Homo sapiens: one gene and its partners. The protein of the gene in region 4 interacts with the protein of the main gene of each other region in a pairwise test. Each region holds a gene or a part of one and is shown on either strand. Other genes may lie near its edges. The genes, in order: SYCE1, ATXN1, PHYH and EDRF1.

Evidence for each region.
Region 1: the proteins of EDRF1 (region 4) and SYCE1 interact in binary tests that used the Homo sapiens proteins (3 or more experiments, as listed by UniProt).
Region 2: the proteins of EDRF1 (region 4) and ATXN1 interact in binary tests that used the Homo sapiens proteins (3 or more experiments, as listed by UniProt).
Region 3: the proteins of EDRF1 (region 4) and PHYH interact in binary tests that used the Homo sapiens proteins (3 or more experiments, as listed by UniProt).

What each region holds. Positions count from the first base shown.
Region 1 is NC_000010.11:133,555,404-133,563,337, forward strand, and holds part of SYCE1 (synaptonemal complex central element protein 1), read right to left. Parts: intron 4,751-7,934; coding exon 4,688-4,750; intron 3,958-4,687; coding exon 3,898-3,957; intron 3,549-3,897; coding exon 3,474-3,548; intron 2,812-3,473; coding exon 2,764-2,811; intron 2,516-2,763; coding exon 2,461-2,515; intron 1,754-2,460; coding exon 1,664-1,753; intron 1,420-1,663; coding exon 1,356-1,419; intron 645-1,355; coding exon 578-644; intron 501-577; coding exon 377-500; intron 305-376; coding exon 194-304; intron 36-193; coding exon 1-35. UniProt on the Homo sapiens protein: Major component of the transverse central element of synaptonemal complexes (SCS), formed between homologous chromosomes during meiotic prophase. Requires SYCP1 in order to be incorporated into the central element.
Region 2 is NC_000006.12:16,751,181-16,759,114, forward strand, and holds part of ATXN1 (ataxin-1), read right to left. Parts: intron 2,912-7,934; exon of another isoform or gene 2,863-2,911; intron 2,168-2,862; 5' UTR 2,053-2,167; intron 1-2,052. UniProt on the Homo sapiens protein: Chromatin-binding factor that repress Notch signaling in the absence of Notch intracellular domain by acting as a CBF1 corepressor. Binds to the HEY promoter and might assist, along with NCOR2, RBPJ-mediated repression. Binds RNA in vitro.
Region 3 is NC_000010.11:13,276,365-13,283,064, reverse strand, and holds the end of PHYH (phytanoyl-CoA dioxygenase, peroxisomal isoform a precursor), read left to right. Parts: intron 1-1,954; coding exon 1,955-2,089; intron 2,090-4,710; coding exon 4,711-4,764; 3' UTR 4,765-5,266; downstream 5,267-6,700. UniProt on the Homo sapiens protein: Catalyzes the 2-hydroxylation of not only racemic phytanoyl-CoA and the isomers of 3-methylhexadecanoyl-CoA, but also a variety of other mono-branched 3-methylacyl-CoA esters (with a chain length of at least seven carbon atoms) and straight-chain acyl-CoA esters (with a chain length longer than four carbon atoms).
Region 4 is NC_000010.11:125,721,982-125,729,915, reverse strand, and holds part of EDRF1 (erythroid differentiation-related factor 1), read right to left. Parts: intron 6,849-7,934; coding exon 6,782-6,848; intron 6,106-6,781; coding exon 5,980-6,105; intron 4,599-5,979; coding exon 4,474-4,598; intron 4,235-4,473; coding exon 4,078-4,234; intron 914-4,077; coding exon 812-913; intron 559-811; coding exon 437-558; intron 1-436. UniProt on the Homo sapiens protein: Transcription factor involved in erythroid differentiation. Involved in transcriptional activation of the globin gene.

The DNA of each region.
Region 1 (7,934 bases), 7.8 Mb from region 4:
CTTGCATTCCATGCTTTTCCAGCTCTTCCTTCAGCCTGGACAGGAAGAGGTAGGATGGGGGAAGGAAGAGGAGGAAAGGGTGGAGGAGGGACAAGAGGTTTTCAAGAGTCAGAGAGACAGAAGGTGGAGAGAGGAGATACAACATCAGTCATCTTCCTGGTGGGGGTTGCGGGGACAGGGCCTCCACACGCACCTCTGCCGCTTCTGCTGCTGTTGTTGGCACTTCTGCTGCAGCTGCTGGTGGCGCTGGGCAGCAGCTGCTAGGAGCTCCTCAGCCTTCCTGTGCTCTTCCTGAAACAGCTGCCTGGGGGGCCCAGTAGGGGGTGGTCAGCACCGGCCACTCCCTCCTCCCACCCTCTTCCCCTCCACATCTTACACTGTGGCTGCAGCCTCCTGGCTGCGGAGAAAGAGTCCCTCATCAAGGGTGGAGGGGCCCTCAGCCCCACACAGGGAGCACAGCTGATGCTTCACGTCTTCCAGTGTCGCCTTGACCAGCTTCTCTGCAGCACAAAGGGGCAGGTGAGCACATGAAGGCACGTGAGGTCAGATATGGGCCATCCACCTTCCCTGGTCTCACCTTCCTTGAGCAGCTGCTCCTTGCTGCTGTCCAGGGCACAAATCTCCTTTGCCAGCCGCTCTGGCATCTGAGGGGCAGAAAAGAGGCCTGTCCACTCCTCTTGGCTTTCCCCCATGCCTCAAAGAAGGCTATCTGGATCTTGTTTCATACTTACTCACTATGCCTCACTTCCAACAACTCTGCCCCTCTGTGCACACCAGCTACAGTACAGCCTCAGGGCCATGGCACTGGCCATTCCCTCCCTGTGCACTTCTGTCATCCCACATCTCTGCGGTACTGCAGTGGGGATGCTCATGGATTGTTATTTACAACAGATAAACCTGCAAGCACTGTGAGTCTTGGCTGTTTTCTGGAGGATCAGGTACCGGTTTAGCTCTGCAGCTCCTCCCCACTCCCCTCTGTCCTGGTGTGACCTCCTCACTGAGCCCTTCCTTCCTGACACTCACTGTCTATTTTCTTGTTCAGTGCCTAGGATCCTCCTGGGGGACAAACACGGGCTGCTTATCCTCGTTGTCTCCTTTGTGCCCGTGATGGTCCCAGACACATCCACGGACAGTGATGGAAGACTTGACCTTGGTCTCATCAGAGATCCCCCTGACCACTGAGCAGCAGGGTCACAAGGAGGTGACAAGGGACTGGATTCAGGCAATGTCGATCTTAGCACCACCAGGGCTTGCTTGGCGACTGGTTGTGGCAGGTGAGAGGAAGAAGTGACCGTTTGGGCCTGGTGCTGCTAGGGAAGATGTGGAAGGGGGAGGAGTGGCTTTGAGGGACTCACGTGGAAGTCCCAGAGGTCCTTGTGCTGGCCCATCAGATCTTCCAGCTGTTCCTCGAATGCCAACCTGGGAACCAACCACAGGCATGAGGGGATATGGGCTGAAATCACCACCTTCACAGCCTGTCCAAGTCTGTGGTTCTTCAGGCAGATTTTGGGGTGCTTTGCCCATGGTCTCTGCTCCACTGGGAACATCTTCACCACCTTGAATCTCCATGGCTCAGTGTAGCCAGCTTTTCTAACCCCCATCTTTGACATTATATCCCAACTACTGGCCATCCAAACCCCCTGCCTCAGATGCTAAGGTTTACCTCAGCTGTCTCTGTTTGTTCTTCTCTTCTTCAATCTGCAAGTTCAGGGCAGAAATTCTCTCCTTGCACTCCTGCAACATGGTGTGCTTCCTGGGAGAGGCGAGGCAGCCCTCAGCCATGTTCTCTTAAGCCCCAGGAGGGCACTGGGCTGGGGCTTCTGCCTCCCTCTATTGAGGCTATTTTTTCCCTCTACATTAAGGTCCTTCTCTGTAACATGTGGTAAGTAGGGAGTGACATGACCATTTGCCCCCTGGAAGTATTGTTGTCAGGTTAAGAGAGATTAATGTGGACATGGTTAAGTGAGCAAATGCACACACATCTTAGTATCATCTCGTTTTCCCAAAGAGCTGAAATCTCAGTGTGCCAGGGCCTGGGGCCTCTGGTAACAAATGAGCTAAATCAGGAGGTGGAGAAATGGATGGACAAATCGATGGGTGGATGAAAAGATAATGGATGAATGGAGAGAGAATGGACAAATGGTTGGCTCAATGCCTAAATGAACAGACAGATGAGTGAATAGACATCCAAGGAGTATGACAAAGAGTAAAAGGCAAAAAATAAAAACCAGCTGAAGAAATTTAATTGACAATTTAGCAAATGAATGTCTTGCCATTGAGAGAGTTTCCCTTAACACTACTGCCAGCTGTTGGAGCCGAAGGGGAAAGACATTCTTTGGACTCTCCATTGTTTAGAGGGAAACAATGAGAGCTGTGGGTCTCAGATTCATCTTCCTGCCTCTTTCTGCTCTACCAGAATAAAGAGGTAGTGCAGAGTTAGGCTCAGCTGGAAGCTCTTACCTGTGTGCCTCACTTTCCTTTTCCTGGCAATGCAGCCGGAGGATCCTCAGGGTCTCTGTAGGGAGAGCAACAGGGCCCTATGAGAACCTGTCAAGGTATTGGGTTTTGGCAGGGGGAACACAGCCAGATCATGTCAGGTCTGTGGACACCTGATTGAGCTTTAACATTTACTACATGTCTGGTGGAAGCCACAGGAGAGAGGCAAGCTGGGACAGGTTTCAAAAGGCTTCAGCTGCCATAGGGAGAGTGGGCTTCTGTGGGTTGGCAAAGGCACAAGCCTGGAGACAGGGGAGCGGCAAATACCTTGTTTTTTGCTCAAGATCTCCTTCAGGTGTACTTTCTCTCCATGCACTAGAAAACAGTGACACATTTTGGCATCAGGGACTATGCACTGCACCCTCAGGGATGGGGCTTGCTCACGGTCACATGGGAAGCTGGGCACAGCCTTGGCCCCAACCCAAATGTGAACCCTTGAGGTGAGCCCCTCCCTACCCTCTGGTGCCCACATTCCTTGTAAGCACCAAAGGGCCTTCACATTTACAGAGGGTGGCTGTGAGGGCCCTGGAGGATGCTCGTGCTTTTACATGGGGAGGAGAGAAAAAATACCAACACCCACGAAGTGGGATAAGGGCTATAAAGAAACACATCAAATAGGATGGGGCATGTGACCAGATGGAGGCAGGGTGCCATCTTTAAATGGGATGATTGGGGAATGCCAGTCATCCTGTCTGGGGACATTCTAACTTAGAGCTGATGATGTGAGGAAAGAGGAACCTGTATTATCTGAGGAAGCACAGACAGCGTCTGGCAAAAGCCCTGAGGTGGGAATGAGGTTGGAGGGTGTTTCCTGAACACTCCCACAAGCAGAGAGGAGAGGGGGAGATTGGCAGGACATGAGGCTAGAGAGGGTACAGGACCCTTGGCCATGGCAAGGATGCTGATTATCTGGAATACAGGGTTAGGGGAGGCTTAAGACACTGTGGGGACCTCTGGGTGACCCCCGGCTCTCTTACGCGAGTCCAGTTCCTTCTGCAGGGCCTCACAGATGGTCCGGGCCTCTCCTAGGTCTTTATTGGCTTTCTTTTTTGCTTCACCAAAGAGCAGAAAAACATTGTGTGAGTGCAGCCTCTATTCTCTTCCCAACAGTGACATTTCTCATTTGCCTTCAGGTAAATCTATAGTGGCCTAGATTTTATAGAGTAGGAAACGAGGCTTCCAGCTCTCCTTGCCAGGCTCTGCTGATAGCAGGGCCAGGATCATGGGCATGTAACTATGGCAGTCGCATGCTGAAATGCCCTGTACTTAATTTAAGGCTCTGCTGTTGCTGTTGTGAATAACCAGTAACTTTGGAACAAGGGACCCTGCATTCTCACTTGGCACTGAGCCCCGCAAACCATGCAGCTGGTCCTAGCTGGCAGCCAAGGCCCCTGAACTCACCTTGCTGGACCTCATTAATCCGGTTAATCAGGACCTCAACTCGGGGCTCTAGGCTTCCCACTGCACGGAGGAAAGGAGGTTGAGTTGACAGGGCAGGCAGAGTTGGGGCGGTTGCCAGCCTTGTGTCTCTGCTGCTTTCACGCAACACAGATCTATTGAGTACCTCCTGCAAGCAGGTGCTCTGTGGGGCCCTCACGGGGCTCACGTTCTGGGTGGGCAAGACTGGGAACAGACACAATAAGATACCGAATGGGGCTGCGGTAACCGTGTTCAAGAGAAATGAAGTAGGCCAAGGGAGGCTAAAGAGCAAAGGAGTGGGAAGTGCTCCTGAGATATGGGAAGGGACCTGAGGGCCCCAAATCAAGTGGTGGGGGGCAGGCCCTGCAGCAATTTGGGTGGGGTTGGGAGGTAGTCAGTGCAAAGACCCATCATGAGGTGGGAACATGGCTGGCAGGAGCCTAGCGAGCAAAGAGGGAGTAGCGGGTGAGGGGGAAGGAAGGGAAGTGAAGGCGGCAACTTCTGGATCTAATGGACTGCAGTGGAGCCAGATGGGTGACCAGCGAGAGGTTTGGGACAGGGTTTTGGGAAAACATTTTGCCTTCTATACCCTTTTGCTTCTTTAATTTTGAAACATGGGGCCCTATTTTTAGTTTAAGTAATTAAGTTTTAAAAGAAAGAGAAGGTGAAGAGGATTATTTCCCAAATTCGTACATTGTGGGGCCTGAAATTAAACCCACATCTGCCTGGCCCCAAACCTCAGGCTGTGCCTCACACAAAGGAGACACACGACCTTTCTGCAGCTTTTGCACCATTTCCATCAAGTCTTCAATTTTCTGTGAGGACGTGTCCTGCCCTGTGGAGACAAAACCAAACATTTCAGAATCAAGCAGGGCGAGAGGCCACCCCTGGGCTGAGACTGAGGCAGGCTGAGGGCAGGTCTCCAGCCAGAGTGGTGCCCCTTCTTCTTGTCCTGAGGTGGACAGTACACTAGATGAATCGGGCTCCTCCATGGTCAGCTTTTCCCTATAAGGTAAAATTATACCAGATATCCTCTTTGTAAAACTCTGGGTGAGGGCAGGGGTGCACTCTCACTGCTGAGGCTGTTCAAAGTAAGATCAAAGCTCCTGATATAATTCAAGAAAAAAAATGAGGGTATAAAAAACTGGAGCAAGGAGTCAAAAATCACTGTAACTGGCAGATGACATAATCTAGGAAGTTCTTAGAGAGTTTTCTACAAAACCATAAGGATTAGTAACAAAATGCATTAAGATGTTAGGTTAAAAACATATATAAATACAAACAAGCTTTCCTACATACAACCAATACTAACCCTGAAATTTCCCCATAAAATATTTCATGTTAATTTTTTATAATCACTATTGGAACCTATTTTTAACACTAAAATTAGTAGATCTAAGAAATTACTATTTATGGCATTAACATTGTGAAAGGAAAATAAATCTTTTTATAAATAAATCTTTGAAAATAAATCAATTCAAAGTCATCCCTCTGCTCACTGAGATAAATGCATATCTGATTTTGTAAAATAAATATCTGAAAATAATTCAGTCATCCTTCTTCTTACTCAGATAAATGCATATCTGATTGCCTCCTTTGGAAAGGCTAATCGGAAACTCAAAAGAATACAACCATTTGTCTTTTATCTACTTATGACCTTGAAGCAAACCCCCCTGCTTCAAGTTGTCTCATCATTGCTTTGAGTTGTCCCACCTTTCCAGATCGAACCAATGTTCATCTTACATATGTTGATTTGTGTCTCATGTCTCCCTAAAAAGCATAAAACCAACCTGTGCTCTGACCACCCTGCCACCCTGGGCACAGGTCATCAGGACCTCCTGAGGCCGTGTCACAGGCATGCATCCCTAACTTTGGTAAAATAAACTTCCTAAATTGACTGAGACCTGTCTCAGATTTTTGGGTTTCACATTTTGGCAACCACAAAGGGATTCTGAGTAGAGGTGCCCCTGACCTTTGACAAATATCCTATCAGTGCTTGCTAGCAGCTTGAGCTATCTTTATGGTTCAAACTAATATGACAAGTTGCTGAGTTCTGGAAGTCCCCCATCCAGGGAATCCCTCATTTCCCAAAATTCGCTCCAGATCCAAAGTTTATTTTTCTAAACAACTCTACTCTTTTTTTGGAGTTTTTCTTGCTTCCAACAAGGAAGGCAAGTTTTCCTGCTTCCATGAAAGTTCCTTTCTGGAGTTTGAACTCGCTCCCAACAGGGAAGACAAGTTTGAGGGTTTTTTTCCTGCTTCTAAGATGATAGAGAGCAGTCTTCAGCCTAAGACCCATCCCTAGGTAAGTAACTGAATTGGGGTTTGTCTTGGCTAAAGGTAAAATTAACAACCAGCTGGTCTTAATTTTTCCTTATCATTAGAGTGTCCAGTAACCATACAAGTTGTGTGATCATTTGTTTGTTTTGCTTAACTGGTATTTTTTTTTGTTGTTGTTTCTTTCTGTTTTTGTTGTTTTGGTCCTTTTCCTATTGGGTTTGGCCAATTCTGACTTGATCAAATCCAAAGGAAAGTTCCAAATTATGTGGAACAAGGCCTCTGAAGTGGCTAAATTCCCACCAGAAAAGGGGTGGTGGGGGAAGAAAAAACAGCCAGCAAAAGGAAAAAAGGGGGGGAAGATTTTTGATTTTGACTACTTAAGGGGATTTATTTACATAACAAGGCCACCTTTTTGCTAGCCAGGCCAAACTGAAAGAGAAAGGATTGTCACCCCAACTGCAGTTCCATAGCTAAGGTTCTGTCTTCTTTTTTCCATGACAGCCTGGGTTTGGTTCCTAAATCAAGACCTTTCTGGTTTGATACTTGGTACTTCTGAAATAGCAGATATTTGTCCTAGCTGAAATATGTTGATGAGATCTTAAAAATTTTTTAAAAAGAAACTCAAATGGTTAAAAGTCATCTTAATTAAAAGCTAACATCCAATGTGTGTGTGTGTGTGTGTGTGTGTGTGTGTGTGTGTGTGTGTGTGTGTGTGTGTATTTAAAAGGGCTTCATGATTTTTCTTTTTTCTCTCTCCTAGGACCTTGTGTTTTTTGGGCAAAAGTTTTTTTTCTTTTCAGTTGACTGAATGCTATTTTCTTCATATAGTTCTGCTGTCTCTCCTTTCCCTTGAACGCTCTGCTGCATGAGGGACCTAAAATAGTTTATAATAGCCTGAGGTTCCTTAAAGAAAATGGAGAAGGCACCAGACTCCCTTTTGTGGAGAAAATTGTTTTTCCTTGTGTATCCCCAAGAGTGTAAACACACAAGTTCATGTCAGCTCCTAAACTGTTTGCTTTTGTATTGTGTTACCTGATTTTTTTGTTTATTAATTATTGCAACAGAAGCTACTCCTGCATTTTTAAGGAAGAGTATATTTTAGACACTTAGAAATATTTTTTTAATGTTTTTTAAGTACACTGTAAAAGCATCCATGTGGTCGAGCCTCATAATAATTCTCCCTTTTTGCAGACCCAGGATTCAGTGTGGCCTCTTCCCAGAGCTCAGAGATCCAGTTAAAAGATAGGTAGTCACTATCTAAATAAAATTGGTCTCCTGTGATCCAACCACCTCCCACCAGGCCCCAACTCCAACATTGGGGATTACAATTCAACATATTTGGGTGAGGACACAGATCCAAACCATATCACAGGCCAAGGCCAAGGCCGAGGCACGGTTGAGAAGGCTCAGAGGCACCTGACCAAAGTTTGTAACAGTTTTGATTGACAATACCAAATTACCTTACACTGATGTATACAAGATGCCCAGTTTTTCATTTTTACCAATCACCTATGTTTCCAAACGTGTTTATCTTTGTCAACCAGATATGCAAAATTAAGGTGTCTCCTTACAAACTTTCTGATAGTAAATATCAAAAGTTTGGGTGCATCTTATTTTCTAAGACTATGTCCTAAGTAATTCTGGATATGGCTAATGGGCAAGGTGTTCATCACTGTATTGTTTATAATAGTGAAAAACTCGAAGAAGCCTAAATATGCCTTAGGGGATTTGTTAAATAA
Region 2 (7,934 bases), on a different chromosome or scaffold from region 4:
CTGGTCTCAAACTCCTGACCTCAAGTGATTCACCCACCTCAGCCTCCCAAAGTGCTGGGATTAAAGGCATGAGCCACTGTGCCTGGCCCACCCTACCTTTTTCATTCAGCTGACACTTGTAGATCTTAAGAGGCTTACCTTTGCATGTAACTTTAGGTTACATTTCCACTTAAAGAACACCTCTCTAATCCACAGCCAATAAAATGTAAGGAATCCAGTTCCATATTTTACAAGAGTATCGTGTCTGTGATGACTCTTCCCTCCTCCACCTTGTCCCCCACTGGGACTTTTTTGGCTGTTTTTCCTGAGGCATAATACTTCAGTCACTCAGGTTTTTGTTTATTTTTACTCAGACCACAAATAACCACATTTATGCATGCAATTCATCAGTTCATTTTACAACAATCTAAAAAAAAAAAAACCACACATGCATCCCATCAGTCAGAGAGTTGTGATAAATTCAGAATTTAAAATTCAGCAAAAACAAATAAAAGGCTCCTTGGCTTTGCAGAGCCGTAGATGTCTACAGGGTGGGTCCAAAGACCAAGGTCCAGGTATATTTACATATTTCTAGTCATGTATGGTTCAGGAGCAACCATCATAAAACATGACCATAACAATCAACCTGTTGAGGGATAAGTTACTTGATAGCATCTGTTAAAAGATACAAACCATACACCAGGTACTATTCTACCCACAGTATATCTACTATTTTACTCCAGTCCATCCTCACAGCAGCCCTATAAGAAAGTTCTAATATTACCTCCATCTTATACATGAATAAACTGAGGCATTGAAAGGACATAGGACTACTCAAGGTCATAGTGGCAGCTCCAGATCTTAAGTCCAGATGGGTTGATTACGGAGCTCCATGCTCTTATCTAAGATGCCAGAGAATTTATATGTAACTTAAAAATTGGCTCTTACGGTAAAGAGGCAGCTCTTTCTTCAAAGAAATCTGGTCAATTATTGTTTAAATGAACCTGTTATAAAGCAAATATCCATCTACCTCTTGAAAAATGAGTTTTGAAAATTCAAATTTTCAAATGGGAGATTTGCTAAAAGTAGAATGAGCTTCTCACCAACTAAGTCTACAGAACATAACTTAGGAAGAGTTGCTGGAAGACCGGCCGACCCAGGGGTTCCCAAACCTGTGGAGCATCAGTGCCTAGACAGATCAATGATTCCAGCAGGAAACATTCTGATTCATCAAGTCTAGGGTGGAGCTCCAAATTCTATTTTTTTAAGCTCTCCAGGTGATTCTGTTGCCTAGCCAGGCTTGGGAACCTCTAATCTAGTCTGTCTTCACAGTTTCAAGCAGGTCCATTTCCAAGGCAAATAGAAATTGATCCCCTATTTTCTATTTCACAATCTCCCTTGGTTACATACACTCAAACCCTTGTGTTCCCAAGCCCTTACTGCCCCAAGTTCTAGCAAACCTCTTTTTCCTTCCTGATTTAATTTGAGGCAATATCCTCTGGCCCTTTCTTCAATAGAGAACCATGAGTCATCACCATTGCATACACCCTATGTCTGCATGACTCTCCAGGCCAGAAAAACTTACTGTACGTGGGAAAATCAGGAAGTTGTAAAATCCAAACAGACACAAAGAAATTCAAGATTCAACAAATACTGGTTCCCCTAAACAAATAGGTCTCTGTTTTGCTACGCACATATTATACTACAACAGTAATCTAAAATGCAAAAACTGTGACTTAAGATATCTGGTAGCATAGCATTCTTAATTGTATTAAGGAAAACTGACAATTAAAATGATGAGGTTCAAGCCCCAATTGGCAATTATCAATCATCGCAAAGTCAAATGAAAGTCTTCATGAACATATAGATTAAACCAAATAGATAGATACTTTAATCGAAGTTTTAAAAAACAATCTTGGCAATTTCTCAACTTCCCACACTATGCCCAAACAGAGTTTGCAAAGAAAATGATATTCAACAGCCAACAAAGTAAGGGAGCATGGCTAGGAGGCAATTTTCCAGGTCAGGACTTTATCCTCAGATGGAAAACAGAGAGCATCGCAAAACTCTCACCTGACATGTGATGCACTTCCCTGTAGTGGCAGTGGAGGAGGAGATTGCTGTACAAGGATGACAAACAAATCTGCAGCTTGAATGGACCACCCTGGTGACTTGATGCACGATGCTCCTGCAATGGTCGAGGGAGTGCAGGAGAGGAAATCCAAAATGAAAAACAGAATAGACTGCTTTAAAAAATAAGTCCACCTTAAGTGTCTATGCACCGAAATACAAATTTTAAGAACATCACATTCGGCATTCTGTTGTATGAGAATTACACAGATCCCAGCCAGCTCAAAAGGCAGGTCTGGTTTTACTCAACAAGGCTCAGAGGGAGGCCAACATACAAAAAGGTCATCCCTTCCATCAAATTAAGAGGATGGTCTCCCCATTTGAGCCAGCCGCTGTCATTCTTTTCTCCAATGATTCTAGCCAATCATCTGATAAACACATGCTGGTAACTACAAGGAGTATCAGGTGAAAATGGGCATGGATTGAATAGTAATTGAGCCAAAGCCTAATTTTAATGTGGCATATATTATCTATCAACATGCAACTTGAAACACAATGATGAAAGTGCACAGCTATTAGCATACCAGTCCAATGGAATAGAAGAAAGGAAAAAATGCAGAAAAAAAGTGTAAAGTGTGCATTTATATTCACTAAACTTTCCACTAAACTTTATTTAAATACTGAATGTACATCTCATTTTCATTTTGCCACAATTCCTTGCACATGGTTAAGTAAAAATTTTCCATTGTATGATGAATGAGTGAATGTGTGAATGGATGAATGAAAGAAAGAATGAATGAATCTTCCATATACCTTTCCATCAGGGAGCTTGGTGCTTGTAGTAGTTTTTGTGAGGTAAAACCTATGCATAGAAACGGAAGAAGTTGAGGACTCGATCTGCTAACGTATTTTTTTAGCCCTATCCATTAAAATTATATTCTTAAATACCGGTAATTACCAATTATCCACATTAAACAGAAAAAAAAATTTTTTTAAAATCAGTAGCAGGGTTACTATAAAATCATCCCCAAACTAGTGAATGCTGGACTGATTTTCAGTCTTTGATTACTGGAGCTGATCTGCACATTTGCTTAGGCTGATTTTAAACTTAGTTTGGGTTTCCTAAGCTCACGCCAGGTAACAGTAGGAAGAAGGAGGCCCAGGTTTATATTGGATGTCAGAAAGAAACTATTCTGGAGCTATGAATATGATCTCCAATGTGAATAATCCGTAAACAGGTAAGTGAGCCAATTATCCTTGGGTACATGGCAACACATCTCGGTACTCATGATTATTTTCATCCATACACACTCACTATTTTTAAGAGCACAGCCCAGCTGGAAAGGAAAATAACTTCCACTTCTTTCCAGCACTTTTCAAAGTAATGAACAGTAGCCAAAATGTTCTTACTTCTAACTAATCCATTCACCAAGCATTTATTTAAGCATTGATTGCCTGCCGAGGACTGATATGCAAAAGAAGGAATTCTTGTAGTCCTTGGTTTCCCCACATGTGATCTGTGCGTACAGAGAAGGAAGGTAAGCTGTTATACACTATAAGGTCTTTCAGATCTTTAGAAGGCACAGTCCCTCCACCAAGAAGCCTGTTGAGTTACAAATATAAATAATGGCCAAGTTAAGTAGAAGTTGACAAAATTCTATTTAATCTTAGTACTTCTTTAAGGATGAGGAAGCAGGGAGGGAGGATCATGATGTCATCTCAAATTAAGCATCAAAATACTTGATTCTCAAATGAGGTGCAGGTACCATAAATTTACAGACAGTGCTTTTTATGAGCTCACCAGTTGGGAGAGTGTTTGCCTATATGACAATGTGTGTGCACACAATCCTGTTTACATATCACCTGGCAGATAAGGTTTTATAGAGTCCAAGTTACAACCTCCTCCTAGTTTGCTGAAGTGCAGAGGAGGGTCAAACATGATGTAAATGCCATAGAAGATTACTTTACTCTTGCATGAGTATGCTTTCTTATTTCAAAAGTATTTGTGTTGCTGCACTAGTTAGGATAATACAGAGAGTTTACATAACTTGTATTCCATCAGAGGGAAGAAGGCAAGAATACAAGCAAGGCAGCACGTATTCACTGCAAAAACTTACAAAATAATATACCAGAAAATAATTTATAGGACATTTTATACAATAATATACACCAAAAATGGAATACTCAATATTTTTAAAACCCAGCAGAGCAACATAATACAATACTATTAATATTGGAAGATTAACAAGAAAGACGGCCTAAACAAAACTGAGGTAATGGTCAGTAAGTACCAGGAGATAATGTGAGAAAGGGGAACAAAATTAAGGGCACAAGAAAATAAAGTTTGCCATACACAGTGACAGAAAAATATATTTTCTTTGAACGTTAGAAGGATAGATGCTATAGGTTAGTAGCTACAATAACTGTCACGAAAAACTTCTGCTACCTAACTCATTCAAAACTTGTCATGTTAAAGGGCACCTAAGTGTAAAAAAAAAAAAAAAGAGTTCCTCTTAGCCCAAATCAAAACATCACAATCGGGGAAACCTCTGCCCTCTTGAGTCTCAAATTCTGAGTACACTACCATGAATTTTCTGGAAAGTAATTTTCAGGTAGGATACAATTTTTGCTTACATTGTGGCAATTATCATTACATTTTCATTACTCCACAAATGGGATGCATTAAAAGTTACAGAAAAATCAATGAAACATTTCTGCTAACATGAAATATGTCAAACAAAATATAATGCTTGTTGCTTTTTTGTCCATAATTGTTCTCTCTAAACGTGTTTTGGTACATTTGGGATGGTAGTAATGCGTAATACAAATATTTATAGTACATTAGCCTGAAAGTTCAAATTATGAGCGTTATAAAATATATTACTACACTAATAAAGACAAATATCCATAAATATAATTATAAAAGAATAAAATAAAAAACTTTCCATAAGATTTGTCTAAAACCATTCTTTTTATTACTTCTGTAATTTTAAGCATTTATATATTTTTAAAAATCTCAATGTAATTACCGTTCTTTCAGCCAACATTTAAAAAATTCTGTAAAACTGACACTGTATATCACTTCTTAAAAAAATTTTGAATGAGTACATTTATTTTATTAAACTAAATTACATGAAAATAAAATGTGAACATAATTGATGACTTAAAATTCTTATCTTAGAAAAGGAAGTTCTATATGTAAGGTCCTAAAACAGAAATTATTATTTCTATTACCATTTCTACAATGTATTGCTTTCAATGCTTTTATCAAAATAAGGAGGGCCTGCTTCTGATAACCTTGGAAGTATGACCAGAACTAAATCTGTTATTTGAAGCAATTAAGCTGCACAGATCTAAATCTCTCACAGAAACTAATCATTCGAACTATTGAATTACTCTGAAAATACAGAGCAAGGAAAGTCAAATAATCTATCTCTCCCCTAAAAATAATAGCCTGTCTTACTTCACTATTGTCACTTTACCGATGCAAGTATTTAAGCTGTTCAGATCCTAATCTATGTGTTATTTTCAGATAACTACAGTTTAAAGAATTAACATTCACTCCCACATTTACCTACTTACGTGAGTTTCAGAATTTTAGTAAAATATGTTTATTGCTTAACTTTTAATAGGAAACAAAATGAGTGTTAGTGTTAGTCATCAGAAACTGTCACTCAAGGTATGTGCAAAAAAGTAAAATCCACTTGACATTTCAGAATGAAAAACAATAAAGGCACAACATTATTCAAAGAAATGTGCGTCCTTGGACTCCATAATGACAACAAAAACAGGAGTCATAGTAATGTTTACTAATATTTCAATAATCTCAGCACTGGCCTTTCCCAGGACTCCTAGGCAACTGACTTAGGTATGTTGAAACTTACAGGCATTTGACATGTAATCTTGTGGCTAAAGAGTTTCTGTTTAATCTTCCTCTAAGTGTAAAAGACAATTCAGAAGTCCTGAAGTCTAGTCGTAACATTTTTGACAAAGTGTCACTTCTGTTTACCAAACCCTCTTAAAACGAAATCCGCAAGGAAAAATATTGCCTTTGGCGGTTCCCACCAGGTACATTTTTTTATACTTATTTTCACATGAATTTATTTGTGCACTGAAAAATATATGTTCACATTTTACTGCAAGTAAAGCATTTTTCTATATGTTGCAAAATAGAATCCAGGACCTCCAAGGCATTGTGTAATATTGACATCCTTGCTTCCCATCTATTTACCACCTTATAAAAGTTGAGTAGCTAGAAGAAATAATAGCTCATTTTAACTACAGCAGTGCTTCATCTGACCAGGCCACAATGAATTTACCAACCACATAAACTCACAAAACGGTAAAAACTCATAAACCCCCTGGGAATAGAGTTGAGTAGCTCTCTCAATCCTAGCCCTGGGGGAAAAAATTTACCAGTTTAGCTTTGTTGGCCATAAAATTGTAAACTGACTGGCAGTCACAACTAAATCAAGACATAATTCTCAATTATCTTTTCTTTCAAATACCAGGGTTATGAAAATACTCCCCCCCGCCCGCCCCCTGCCCCACTTAGTTGGATTGCCTGAGCAGCACAGAGCTTCAGCAACTAAAGCAACTTTTCCTTTTTTCCTTTTTGCCATAATATTATTTCTCTTTGCTTAGCCAGCTTTATCAGTGGTGCCCTAATGCAAAGACTAGAATACTGCTTTCTAACTGCTCACTAAATTACATCCTAAAATAAAGTACATGTTTATTGTCCAAAAGCACCATGCACTATCAGTCCTCTAGCTATAGGCCTCTATCGTTTCTCGCTTAGCTAAGGAAAAAAAAATCCTTTTAACTTACTACCAAAGATCATTCAAATCACAGCCAATAGATCCAAATTAAGAATGAATACATTCAGAATGTCTGCCTACTGTCAGTACCAGTTTTTGTTATGATGGCTGTCAAGTTTTAAAATGTGACAATGGGAATATATTTTCCGAATAAGTTATTCCCCTGAGTAAACCCTTTAGAAATCCAGCCATCGCTATGGGCAATGGAGGTTCCAAATGATGAACGCTCTTCACACTTGAAAGGGTTAAGTGACTGACTGCAAGGCCAAAGGCACCAGACTGCAAAAGAAATGTTGCTTTAGTGAGCTCTGAAAGGTTTCTAACAAGTACCAAATACTTGTTGATCTGTTCACAATAAACACCAGCAGGATTGTCAGGCTCCTTTCACTGTCTGGGGAGATGCATTTACATACTGCACCTAGGAAGAACAGCTTGTTGGTCTCCTTTATAAAAGTTGAGTAGCTAGAAGCCTCATTCAGTGTCTCCCATCCAAATGACTGAAAGAAGATGCAATTGAAATAGTGGAGTCTCTCGTCTGGCTTGGGCAGCATAAATGCTGTGCATAAAACACTTGGAGTAGTTCAGGCACAAGACAAACCCACCTGAATGGACGAGGAACACTGTCTGTTGCCATGGCAGCCTGATCTAATTACATGAGTGATCAGGACTGGAGTAAGTGCACCGAAAACCTACACCACTGACAGGCAGCCAGGAGGTTCAGGGGAGCCCTTCAACCTCTGCTTTATGTAGAAGATGGCATTCAAGTCCATTTATTTGCGGAGCTGCTAAAATATTGACTGATGCATGCACAGTGAGAGGGCAATCAGAGGAGATTAAATGCCACAGCGCTAGCCGTTATGGTGCAATCCCTTTCCAAGAGTTCCTGTGCAGGATTTTCTCTTCTCTCTGGTGGTTTCCTCAGACATAAGCTTCACTCCAAAAAAAGCTCAAGTATCAAACTACCTTTACCCATCAAATAAACCGAAGGGTGGGCTTAAGGGGGGCTTCTAGGAACTGCAGCCTCCTAAAAAACCCAAACAGAAATGTCTCAGCTAACACTGTTGAAAA
Region 3 (6,700 bases), about 110 Mb from region 4:
AGGATCACTTGGGACCAAGAGCTCTAGACCAGTCTGGGCAACATGGCGAGACCCCACTTCTACTAAAAAAGAAAAAATCACTGTTGTCTCCTGAGGCCATGGGTTAGGGGCCAAATTTCGTCTTCCATTCATTCATATTTCCACCAGCCTCATCAGGGTCAGGATTAGGGTGGGACAAGTTGGGGCACTCTCTCCAGGGGTAAAATGTAAGGGGATGCCAAAAAAAGACTCTGCAATCGAGTTTAGTAACATTTTAATGCGAAATTTAAAAAAATCAAAATTAATGCAAAATACCCAATGTATTGGCTGCGCACAATGCCAAAAGTTTAAATAAAAGACACTATTGGACCCCACACTAGCACAACCTTCAGAGCTGTGCAAGTAGCGAGGTGCAGGCACAACGACACAAATCATGTTGTGGGTTTTAATATATAGACTTGGCAATTTTCCTTTTTTCTTTTTTTTTTTTTTTTGAGGTGGAGTCTCACTCTGTTGCCCAGGCTGGATTGCAGTGATGCAATCTCAGCTGACTGCAACCTTGGCCTCCCAGGTTCAAGCAATTCTCCTGCCTCAGCCTCGTGAGTAGCTGAGACTACAGGCACACGCCACTATGCCCAGCTAATTTTTGTATTTTTTAGTAGAGATGGGGTTTCCCCAGGTTGGCCAATCTGGTCTCGAACTCCTGGCCTTGAGTGATCGTCTCACCTTGGCCTCCCAAAATGCTAGGATGACAGATGTGAGCCATCTCGCCTGGCCCAATGTTTTTTAATGCTTTTATTTTAAAACATTTTATTATTTGTTTATATATTTATTTGAGACAGCATCTTGCTCTTTTGCCCAGGCTGGAGTGCAGTGGTGCAATCATAGCTCACTGCATCTTGGAACACTGAGGCTCAAGCCATCCTCCCACCTCAACCTCTCAAGTAGCTGGGACTACAGGCATGCATGACCACACCTGGCTAATTTTATTTTTTCATTTTTTGTACAGACATGGTCTTGCTATGTTGCCCAGGCGAGTCTTGAACTCCTGGCCTCAAGTGATCCTCCTGCCTTGGCCTCCCAGAGTACTGGAATTACAGGCATGAGCCACCGTGCCCAGGCTTAATGACTTTAATGTTCTGGGAAAATATTACTATAATTTCATAAAGATACAGATATAGGGGTGCGTGTTTTCCCTTTGCCTTGGGCTCTGTTACAGTGCCGTATGGCACCAGGGCTTACAGAGGCAATGGAGTTTGTGACTCCACTCCCTAGAAATTTGTTGTTTGGGGCAAAGTAGAAAGTCTTTCTGACAAGTGTGATCACTTGTGACAAAAAAGGTAAGTTTTAACGATTGCCTTGCAGCTTAGATCTGTTTATAACTTTTTCTAAAATAGGGAGAACCAAGCAATTTCATCCTTACCCTCAGAAGGAAGCAAGAGGGGTAATATATGTCACTGGTATTGGCTTTTAAATGTCCTTTTGATTTGAGAGAAGGTGTCTGCATTATTTTCTATCTCAAGGTATTTTTAGTTCTTTTCATAATCTATTGCCACTGAAATAACAATTCATCCCAAATTGGACCAGGTAACTAACTTATGAGATAAACTGCCGTGGAATGCAGTCCTTCTTAAGACTTTGGGATATTCATTCATTAGGAAAATAAAATGCTAAAAAAAAAAAAAACTAAATACCTCTTACTGACATAATTCCATTCCCTCTCCCATATATACCTTTCAAAAATACATGTCACATCTGGTTAACGATCTTTTGAAATTTCTCAATTAACTTCTAGCTGGAAACAAAAACAGGCTTAGTTACAAAGAGATTGACACAGGATGCAATGGACCTGACTTTCCACTTAGAAATCAAATACTGAGTGAAATAAATGACTTTCTAAAAGAAAGACTCCCTGCTTGGTCACTGGTATTCATGGGATGTTTTTCTCCAATATCAATTTGTTCACTTTGCACAGGCAATTTCCTGCCATTTCGCCAGTGCCGATTGCCACTACATTGACGTGAAGGGCACCAGTCAAGAAAACATCGAGAAGGAAGTTGTAGGAATAGCACATAAATTCTTTGGAGCTGAAAATAGCGTGAACTTGAAGGTATGTTTGTATACAATAGCAAGGTAAAAATCTCAGGTTTTTCTTTTCTTCAGATGCTTCATAATTCTCATACCTAGTTTATTTGACAGTATATAGTGCTTGGGTTTAGATTCATTTTAGGGACATCGCTGAGCCCCCACCAAAAATGACAATGGAATTTCCATTTACACTTGTGCCCCCGTGCAGGAGGCTTGAGAACTTCCTGCTGCTTCTTTATGTCTTGGGGCTGTCCAGAGGTGTGCTGGCTGTCCTGTTTCACACAGGACAGTAAAGGAAAACAAAACTACAGATTGAGATGAGAGAAAATCAAAGACAAAACCTTGCCTTCTGGCTGGGCATGGTGGCTCATGCCTGTAAATCCCAACACTTTGGGAAGCCAAAGCAGGAGAATCACTTGAGCTCAGGAGTTGGAGACCAGCCTGAGAAACACAGTGAGACTCCATCTCTACTAAAAAAGAAATAAAAATAAAAATTAGTCAGGTTGGGTGGAGCATAGCTGTAGTCCCAGCTACTCGAAGGCTGAGTTGAAAGGCTCACTTGGAGCTTGAGGTCAAGGCTGCAGTGAGCTGATTGCACTACTGCACTCCAGCCTGGGTGACAGAGTGAGACCATGTGTCAAAAAAAAAGCCTTCTGAAGGGATAGAAGGAAAGTTATAGGTTTGAGATCCAATCATAGGCCATGTTTATTAATATAGAATAGAGTATTTATGGCTGGGCGAGGTGGCTCACGCCTGTAATCCCAGCACTTTGGGAGGCCAAAGCAGGCAGATCACAAGGTCAGGAGATCGAGACCTTCCTGGCCAACATGGTGAAACCCCGTCTCTACTAAAAATACAAAAATTAGCTGGGTCTGGTGGCACATGCCTGTAGTCCCAGCTACTCGGGAGGCTGAGGCAGGAGAATGGTGTGAACCCAGGAGGCGGAGCTTGCAGTGAGCCGAGATCATGCCACTGCACTCCAGCCTGGGCGACAGAGCGAGACTCTGTCTCAACAACAACAAAAGAAGGAATCTTGCTTCTCCCTTTAGAACCTGGAAATGTGTCGCATCTCTGAAAATGCTCTGATTTTGCATTTGCAGGTCCTAGAAATTCTTGTCCTTCCTCACTTTTTGTTCAGTACCTAAAATGCCTATACATTTTGTCAACTGGAGCTTTGAGCTAACATCCTAAATTTTAAGGGAGAACAAATATATGTACATTATGTTTGAGGTTTGTCAAGGTTGTGCTAAATGAATACCTCCCACATTTAGTTTAATTACTCTGTAAGTTATATTTAGAATAACAATATTAACCTCTGCTACATAGTTCTCTGTAAAGTACAAAAGCACATTCATATTCATTTTCTTATTTTCTTCACCAAAACCCGGTGGGGCAGTATAAACTCCATGCTGTCAATGACAAGAAAACAAATCCCAGAGGCTGATCTAAGCTAGCTAAGCGACAAAGCTTGATTTTAGAGTCAGGTCAAATCTGAAAATTATTCTTTCCACCATACCTTGCTGTTTGCTCAAAAATAAACAAGAACCAAGAAATAAGAACATCTAAATTATTTTATTAAGGGCAGAGGGGGAAGAAACCCACCAAACAAAGCAGTAATCCTTGATACCATGTTCACTATTATCATCTCATCAAGAGTAGAACACTCAAAAAGGCTCAGACAAGTAACATAAGAGTCATCAGGCCAGGTGCAGTGGCTCACTCCTGTAATCCCAGCACTTTGGGTGTTTGAGGCGGGTGGATCACCTGAGGTCAGGAGTTTGAGACCAGCCTTACCAACATGGTGAAACCCCGTCTCTACTAAAAATATAAAATTAGCCGGGTGTGGTGGCACATGCCTCTAATCCTAGCTACTTGGGAGGCTGAGGCAGGAGAATCATTTGAACCCAGGAGGCAGAGGTTGCAATGAGCCAAGATGGTACCATTGCACTCCAGCCTGGGCAACAAGAGCAAAATTCCGTCTCAAAAAAAAAAATTATGCAGAAAAATGGCAGTGAACTGTTTGTTCTGTAACCCGACATGACATTGACCCAGTTATGTTAGCTGGCACCAACAAATATCCTGAATAAAACAGAACTGACAGCAGCTGGGGGACCCACTGACTTAATTTAGTTAACACTGTTTTAGAAGTCGGTTAAGTAGACCAGGAGTGGTGGCTCATACCTGTAATCCCAGCACTTGGGAGGCTTTGCAAGGCCAAGGCGGACAGATCACTTGAGGCCAGGAGTTTGAGATCAGTCTGGCCAGTGTAGCGAAACCCTGTCTCTACTGAAAATACAAAAAGTTAGCTGGGCGTGGTGGTGCACACCTGTAATCCCAGCTACTCGGGAGGCTGAGGCAGGAGAGTCGCTTGAACCCGGGAGGCAGAGGTTGCAGTGAGCCGCTGCACTCCAGCCTGGGCAATGGGGTGAGACTGTGTCCCCAAAAAATTTTTAAAAAAGAGTTGAGTAAGTAGTTTAAGTTGAGTTGTTTTGTTTACTAATGAATATAACTTACAGGGATTATTTTCCCTATGTAACCTTTCATAGAAGCTAGAAATCAATTTTGTGTTATGGTGAAATTGAAGGTTAATGGAGGGCAGATTGAAGTGTTCCATAAACCCACTCTGTTTGATATTATTTCCAGGATATTTGGATGTTTCGAGCTCGACTTGTGAAAGGAGAAAGAACCAATCTTTGAAATAGCCATCTGCTATAACTCTTTCAACAGAAAACCAAAACCAAACGAAATGTCTAAGGAAAATGTTTTCTTAATGAGATGATGTAACCTTTTCTATCACTTGTTAAAAGCAGAAAACATGTATCAGGTACTTAATTGCATAGAGTTAGTTTTGCAGCACAATGGTGTTGCTTTAATGGAAAAAAAAAACAGTAAAAGTGAAATATTACTGTTTTAAGGAAAACTAATTTAGGGTGGCAGCCAATAAAGGTGGTTGGTGTCTAATTTAAGTGTTAAATCAATTTCTTTCATTCAGTTAGCTCTTTACCCAAGAAGAAGTGAATGATTTGGAGCTTAGGGTATGTTTTGTATCCCCTTTCTGATAAACCCATTCCCTACCAATTTTATGTCATAAGAGATTTTTTTCCCCCAAATCTAGAACAATGTATAATACATTCACATCTAGTCAAGGGCATAGGAACGGTGTCATGGAGTCCAAATAAAGTGGATATTCCTGCTCGGACAAGGGCTTTCTCCTGTGATTTCTTCAACCCAACCATTCCCTTAACAAGAAGACTTGTTCTTTCCAGTCCTTTCCTCTGTTCCTGAAGAATGAAGACAAGGGCCAGGTGCAGTGGCTCACGCCTGTAATCCTAGCACTTTGGGAGGCCGAGGTGGGTGGATCACCTGAGGTCAGGAGTTCAAGACCAGCCTGGCCAACATGGCAAAACCCCATCTCTCCAAAAATACAAAAAAAAAAAAAAAAAATAGCCGAGCGTGGTGGCATGCACCTGTAATCCCAGCTACTCAGGAGGCTGAGGCAGAAGAATTACTTGAACCTGGGAGGCAGAGGTTGCAGTGAGCTGAGATCACACCACTGCACTCCAGCTTGGGTGACAGAGCAAGACCCTGTCTCAAAAAAAAAAAAAAAGGAATGAAAAATAAATAAATAAAAAGAACGAAGATGAGGGTGACTTCATTTGATGTATCTTATTGGGTAGGGCTGCTGGAAACTTTCCACATTTATGAATGAAGCCTAACCTCCTTCAAGCTATAGGGAACTTTTTAGATACTTTTCCCTGGATTTGGAGTGAGCATGGACTGAACAAACTTATTTCAAGACAGCACCATATTTTCGGTACCAGCTGAGGGCAGCAAGGAGACATAGTCCTTATTTTTACAAATTTTAGTTAGGGCTTTAGTAAGAAAGAAATAACAGAGTACCTTTCTTGTCATTCTGCTAAGCACAAGTTTTCCTAAATCTAGTGTTGCCATGAGTGCCGTTTTGTTTGTGAGGACAGCCAAGTGAAGCTCATCTCCCACTGGGAACTGGAGAAGGCAGATCACTGACAGAATCTAAGGAAATTAGATTATGGGATGATTGGAAATAAAACGTAATAAAGGAATGCCTGTGTAAACAACATGTGGGGAGCCCTGCTTTGTTATGGAATAAACTCTAAATTGTTTCAAATTTAAAGTGAATATGAAAAACTAAATTTCAGTAGGAATATTGAAGAGCAATTTGTTATTTCCTGTGTGCCTTTGTGAGTGAAAACCAACTGGTTGCCATCAGGAAACATTCATTTCCCATCTGATCCATGTCCCTTTTGTCCATTAGTGCATGTAAGAAATATTCAAGCACCCACTCTTTTTTTTTTTTTTTAATTTTTTTGAAGACACGGTCTTGCTCTGTCACCCAGGCTGGAGTGCTGTGGTGTGATCTCAGCTCACAGCAAACTCTGCCTCCCAGGTTCCAGTGATTCTCCCGCCTCAGCCTCCCGAGTAGCTGGGACTAAAGGTGCACGCCACCACACCCAGCTAATTTTTGTAGTTTTAGTAGAGACGAGGTTTCACCATGTTGGCCAGGCTGGTCTCAAACTCCTGGCCTCAAGTGATCCACCCACCTAGGCCTCCCAAAGTGCTGCGATTACAGGCGTGAGCCACCGCGCCCGGCTAA
Region 4 (7,934 bases):
AGCATTAAGAAAAATGCTCACAAGTAGTTAGTAGGAATCTAACTAATTAAATAAACTCTCTTGAATATTCTCACAAGTTGTAGATTCAGACCTAAGACTAGGCCAGTCCAACAAACCTCTGGCTCTATTCAATGAGGTCTAGAATGAAGACTCAGCTATAGGCCTGCCTTTCAGCATCTGCTGACAGTAGCTCCTTCCTTAATGTGGCCATTTCAACTGGCAGGGGAAGGAGGGAGGGGAAAAAACCTAGAGAAAGAGGAAGATGCCCAAATAGATGGAACACTGATTCTTTTTTGAGACGAGTCTTGCTCTTTCGCCTAGGCTGGAGTGCGGTAGCATGATCTTGGCTCACTGCAACCTCAGTCTGATGGAACACTGATTCTAAAGGAAGAATTTAAATACCATAAGCTTGAGGAGGGGTATGATGTTAGTTCACCTGAGACGTAAGCTGACTGCTGGGTATCTGCCTCCTCCAAATATGGGCATGTTGGAGCCGACCAACATATGGATATCTTCAAATGTCCATAGAATATTCCGAACAAAATCATTTTTAAGACCCTGTGATTTAAAATAGGGAGGATTATAATAAACAGTCAATCTGTAATTTCCCCCCATGATCCATAAAAAGACTAGAAAAAGGAAGAGACAAAGAAGACAAAGTCAGGCCCCAGAGCTAAGATCACAAAGATGCTTAGAAAGCAGTTTCAGGATCAAGTGGAGTTTTTCCCTATCAATTTCGACTTAGGCTAGTTTTGAAATGACAAAGTAGACTGGGGATTTGCTGTCACCTTGGACACCATGGAAAGCATACCTGACTGTGCTCCCCGTCATTGAATAAAGTAATCAGGTTTTGTTCTTTGGGGGCTGAGGCCACATGCCCCACTATGTATGAGGGTTCAAGAGGCTCACTTCCCTGTGAAAAGTGCAAGGATAAGGAGTGATTCTGCTGTCAACATTTCTTAAAATTGACCCACTTTTGAGAGTATCACCTAAATATTCAAAGCACACACTTCAAATCTACCATTGTGAATTATTAGGCCAATACAAATAATAACACGCCTCATTGGGTGGCTTGCTTTGGCTAATGATCATAGCTACTATAAGAAGCGAATCACATTTAGATCTTACTCAAGAGAGATAGATTAAAGATTATTCTAAACTTTCTAAGTTTTTCATTTTTCTCTTTTTTGGTGCATCTGATTACCACTGCTCTTTCAGCCTACTCTATCTATATTGAATTTAAAAATTCCTAAGAAACTGGCCAGGCACGATGGCATGTGCTTGTAGTCCAAGCTATGTGGGAGGTCGACAGGGGAGAACTGCTTGAGCCCAGGAGTTCGAATCCAGCCTGGACAACATAATGAGAGTCTGTCTCTTAAAAAAAAGAAACCCTAAGAAATCTTACTCAGCCACAGTTTGAGATACTCATTATCTTAACAGTCTCCAGTTTAGCATTTCCTGATGAGTGTTTCACAGAACACTAGTTCCTGGGAAACTGAATGAAAATTTTCCAGAGTCAGGTTTGAAAGATGACGTTTACCAGGTACTCACTTTTGTGGAGTAACAATATTTATTGATATTAAAACAATAAATATATAATAAGTAATCCTGCAATAGAAAAATCTACTTTATCTTTGTAAAAACCAATGTTTCCCAAATGTATTTAATCTCAGAACACTTTTTGTTCTTAAGATATTCTCTGGAATACTTTTTTTTTTTTTTTTGAGACAGAGTTGCCCAGGCCAGAGTGCAGTGACATGATCTCAGCTCACTGCAACCTCCGCCTCCTGGGTTCAAGCAATTCTCCTACCTCAGCCTCCCGAGTAGCTGGGATTACAGGCACGTGCCACCATGCCCGGCTAATTTTTTTTTCTTTTTTTAAATAGAGATGGGGTTTCGCCATGTTGGCCAGGCTGGTCTCTAACTCCGGGCCTCAAGTGATCCACCCACCTCGGCCTCCCAAAGTGCTGGGATTACAGGCATAAGCCACTGCGCCCAGCCTGGAATGCATTTTGGAATACACTTGGGCCCTCTTGACACTGGGTAAACTCAGCCTACCACTCAATTTTCCAATCATTAGGAAAGTAGTACTGCCATTAAGAAATACTACTTTAAGCTTTTAATGTCATTGCCTCAACAGAACCCAAGACAGGCATGCGTGTGTTGCTTATTCCACAAACATCTGTCTTACTTGTCATCTGTGTGTGCCAGTAGGCTTGGCACCTGCTTGGGAAGAGTGTGTGACTATAAGCACAGGTGGCTCTCTAGCACTTCTATTGTGCCTTGTCCTCTCCCTCAGGAGTCCTAAGAGAACTTTAAACTCTTTTTTATTTTATTATTTGTTTACACAGACAAGTTATCAACTCATGAACCGATTCTCAAAACAGTTTGCCAGGCAGTTGCTTTAGTCAGAGTATGAGCTCTAGGTTACAACGTTCTCAATAAATGTCTGGCTCTAGGACCATCCCACAGTCACCTATTTAACCTCTATAACTGCTTAACAAAGGCCTCAAGCCAGCAGTTTTAGTTTTTGGAACAAGAATTTGTGCAGAGATAGCTTGCAAATATAAACAAATCTCTAAAGCTGAAATTTAAGCAATATAAGAAAAGTACTCTGTAAGAGACTCTTAAGGCAGGCTAGCTGTGCCTAGGGATACACCACTACTACGATGATCTGACTGTTAGTAGGGCCTTGCTGTGTGTGGAGTACACGGACACAGTGGAGTACTGCTGGAGGAACAGGCCTCTGCAGGCAGAAAGATCTGGGTTTAAGCCCTAGCCTGAGAGTTTCGCCAGCTGTATGACCATGTGAAACATCTTTTGATGAGCGTTAGTTTACTTATTTGTACAATACGCAGCTCCAAGAATGAAAAAAAAAACCTTGTACAAACATACACATGGCATAAGAGCTATTCAGTAAATGCCAGCTTGCTTCCTCAACACGCAAGTCTACAGATTCCCGACTCTCCAAGAGTTTTCACAGTAATTCCTAAACAAGGTAAAGACAGAACAACACTGGGAGATGGGTGACATGGGTAATAGGAGGGTAGTATTTGTATTATGTAGTCTTTTCTCCCTTCTGAATCATAGAACATCCCTACTTCTTGGTTGTTACCACTATGTGACTTGCATATTAATTACTTCCTTTTCCTTACATTTTTCTCACTTTTGAAAGAAATTTAAATTCATTATGGAGTTTTATGGGATGCTTTCTCTATCTTAAACCTACTGAAACTAAAATCGAGTTAAATGTATCTGCTCCCTGTAATTTGTGAAGATTGAAACAATCTGGTTGAATAGTGCTCAATATGTGGGAACACAACAGCAAGAGGGAAGACGTAACTTATCAAGTCACAGATCTTATTATCTATTTATCAATCTATTTTCCTGAAAATAGACATGTCACAATTTACATCTATGGCTTTATTTTATTCTTTGATAGATACAGTAAGTACAAAAATAAACAAGCATTAGGAAGAAACAAGGATGTAAGAGATAAAATGGACAACCTAGTTCATTCTCTTTTCTAAAACTTTTATAACATGAATGTGGACTAAGTTTCAGGAATTTTATCTGGAAAACCTTAAAGGGATATTTTAGGTCTAACAATCTGACTGAAAGTTATGGTAAAAAGGTTAGAACTTAAATTACAAATGGGTCTCTGAGTCTCAATATTTGGTAGGAAATGTCTATCAAATATTGACAGATATTTATAGTTAAAATAGTATTTATAGTTAAAAATGACTAGTATTTATAATTAAAATATACTATATCTCTATATAATACTCATCACTTGAAGGAGATAATCAGTATTAATAAACATATCAGTCAACTATTATATTTCGATTTAATAAAAAAATCTGATCTCCCCACCTATAATAGCTCTTGTAAATTCTATTGCGAAAAACTAAAAAGTATTTCTCCAATTCCATAAATTGACAGAAGTCTTTTTTCCCCCATTCCATAAGCTGACAGAATATTTCTTAGTCCTGTTCATCTTTTTTTTTTTTTAACGAGATGTTAAAAAAGGCTTTGTTTTCCTATGTGAGTTTCTAGAATTAGCATTTAAGTACTAACCTGACTGGAAGCACTGGGATCTTCAGAAACTGAAGAAGGCATTTCGAAGGGAGCAGGCCATGAAGCCCCTTCCGAATCATTTGTCTGATCTGAACTGGACGATTCCTGCTGTTCTGCGGTGGATGAGACAGGCTGAGCGGCTCCATCACCATTGATACTGGCCAAACCAGAAATAAAAAAGGATTGCTGTTACTAAAGTTAACTTCATGCAACAGTCTACCCGTTTATAAAAACTACAATCTGTAATTAAGCATACATCTTGTAAAAAAGAAATATGAAACAAATGTTAACAGTATCACAGGGGCAAAACTTAAATTATAACTTCATTAAGCTTCACACTAAATTTTAGATCAGAATTCCCTTTTTCTCTTTAGAGATAAATAAGTAGCCAAGTACCTGTAATATAAAAACTTGGAAAGAATTGCCTTTTGATACCAGTGCTCTTTGCTCTTTTTCTTCCTCTGCCACTTCTGATCAATGAGTCTTTGATAAAACTCTTTCAACCATGTCCAGTCACCAGTCTGGATAACATGAGATACATATTATTAATACAACACACATAGTCGAAACAATGTTACCTAGTACTAGCTTACAGAAAAGGCTCCTATTATTTTTTGAATAGTTTCATAAACACATACTCATTAAAAACATATCTTTCTGGGTCAATTCATACCACCTTTCTTTTGTTTTTTGTTTCCTAAAGGAAACCCGTCTTCCTCCTCCTAAGCCAGGCTGGGAGAGGTGAGTCTTCTCTATAACATGTTCCTTAGCAGCTGCAGTAGTTCCCACTTTGCACACTATATTGAAATGATCTGTGTATGTGTTTATAACCCCAAACAATGAACTGCTGAGGAGCAAGGCCTGTGATTTGTTCACTGTCACATCCCCGTGCCTAGGCTCATACTCACATGATGAACTAAACGGTGGTCTTTTCAAAGGAAAAAAGCACTTATTTTAAATGTCATTTACCTCACCATAATTTAATTTTCTTTATCAAAGCACTGTAGTAATATTCTTTAAAGACTGACCATGAACTATTTCTTGCCAGCCCAAGAAAAGTACAGATATGGAGGGTAGTTCTTGAGAAACTGCAACAATGTTATTATGTTTTTCAAAAGTATCCATTCTCAACATGTGGGAAAAACAGTCCTTACCAACATACAATTTGAGAATCTAGGCTAAAGAGCATCAATTAATTCTAATAACTACAGCCATGTGTCATTTAACAATGGGGATATATTCTGAGAAGCGCGTCATTAGGTGATTTTGTCCTGGTGTGAACATCGCAGAGTGTTACTTATAGAAACCTGGATGGTACAGCCTACTCCCTACCTAGGTCATACGGTATAGCCTATTGCTCCCAGGCTACAAATCTGTACATGTGACTGAAGTATTTGTGTATCTGAACACTGCAAATACAGTAAAAATACAGTATATTATAATCTTATGGGACCACCGGTATATGCAGTCCATCGCTGACTGAAACGTCATTATGGGAACATGACTGTATTTATTCATAGGAACAGCTTCTAATATTTTTCACATTTTCCAGTAGCTGTGTTTCCTGAGAATCTGTTTAAGGGAGACGTTAAAGGATTCTTAAAAATATTAAACTAGTCCCTTAAATTTCACAGTTTTTTTCACAACTTTCTTCATTGGCTTCATCTTTTTTCTTGTAAAAAAGAATCTGGCTGTTGGAATCAATAAAATAATTTTCTTCACCATTCTCATTCTCTTCTTTTTTCTTCATTCAAGCTTTTCTATCTTCAGTGAAACTTTCAATTTCTCGATTGTTGAAGTACTCAACTACATTTCCACTTTGGCCATTCTCTGAAACAAAATCGTATTTCTAGTGCTCTTAAGCTGTTAATGTTTTGTTGGATTTTTTCACAAAAGCATTACCTGAGACGATCTCATAAAGAGTTCTTGAATATCTAGCTCATCTAGTAAGAGAGTCCTTCCTATGCGGTGTACTGCCATGCTCACGTGCGACTTGCTGTAGGGAATTTTCAGGAGTTTTTTTATGTTCTTAAAAAATTAAGAGAAAAAATAGTTTAGAAAGACTGTTTTAGTGTGATTTGGAATCTTTTAAATTTTAGCTTCATTCATTTTAAAGCATAATAAACCTTATTTCCTTAAGGTTATACAAATAGAACTTTAAACAAAAAGCTACATGCAAACACACAGAGGACGGAGCTTTCAAACCAGAATCACGTACACTTTATGAGTCACATTATGTTAGTGACAGTCAAACATTTATTTTTACATGATAGGATTTCTTAAAGTTAAGGGTGTATACGTCACACTGTTATGCTGACCCAGGCTTTTAGCATATCAGATCAAAGCCACTAAGGATCCAATAGATTTTACTAGAAATATCATTTGTAACTCAACTGGTAACATATACAGAATAATCCCAAACACTATTATCAGTTTCAATTACTATCATTAAAATATAACCATCAATATATTATTACCACTGCCAGTGTTTGGGGATTGATTATTCCTTCCTCTTTAAATACAAATGTGGTAAACAATGATACTTTAACAACAAAAAAGATACTCAATAATCAGGTAAGTTTTATCTTATTTCATCACTAATTTCTCAAGACTTGCACATTTATATTATGCAAAACACAGCATGATATAAAACACCTATCACAAAACACCTCCAAAATTACATTAAGCGACAAATAACACTTACTTCAGAGTCAGAGACAACATCCACATCATTTCCCACTGAATCAATAAAGTCATATGCCATGCCAAAGCTACCAAAGAGAAAAAAGGACACAGGTTATGAGGTCATGCTCATAATCATGCAAGTAGAGCTTAATAACAATACTGTAGCTCATTGCTTCTAGGATACACATTTTCCACATTTTAACAACTCTGAAACCAGGATGTGTATCACCATCACAGTTGGCAAGTTTTTTTTTCTTAGTGGTACTAAAATAATGGTGTGTCTTAAAGTCAATGGCATCTTAGATTTGATAAAACATGGTAATAATCATTAGAAGCATCCAGTAGGAAATATTTAGAATAAAAACAATTATTCTTTATTTTTGTAATCACAAAACTCAAAGTCTCCAAGGGAAAATAGTTCAAAACTTTATTCTTTTTAGGTGGAGAGATAAGAAAAACAGAAACAGAAACATTTATCAGGATTTTACTTTCTGAGATTGTGTTTCTAGTGATATACAATACCTCTTAAAAAAATACATGAAAAAAATGTACCTGACACCAATTCAGCCACAAAAGGAAATTAAAAAAAAATGTTAATTGAGCAGCCAACTGATGCCACGTACCACCTGAAGCACATCTATAGTCTATAAGCCTGAAAGGTACCCGACATCACCATGTTCCAACTACTAAATGGCAGAGTCAGGACACTTACCAAGGACTACCTAACAGCAAAGCATGCTTTGTGATTTACTGTATGCTTGAGCCAAATTATTTAGCTCTTCTCAGCTTCCGTTTTCTCAGGTGCAATATAATTAACAGTGCCTATCTCAAAGAGTTGTTGTGAGAATTAAATGAGATAAGCATATAAATACTTGCCACAGCATTTGTATAGAGTCAATATAATTATTCAAATTTCCTCACAACATTTAATTATGTTGACAAATCACAACTGATTAAGCCATTCTTTTAAAAAATGATATTTGGGTTATTCCCAACTTTTTGCTCCTATAAATGATGCTACAAACAAACAGCATTTTTGCAAATATAACTTTTATTTTCTGAGGCTTTAGGATAATTTCCAAAATACCAGCTCATAAAGTATTAGTGTATTTGTGCCTCTTGCTACAAGTTACATGGAAATATTTTAGATTGAGTTGCTGAGAAGGGGGAAG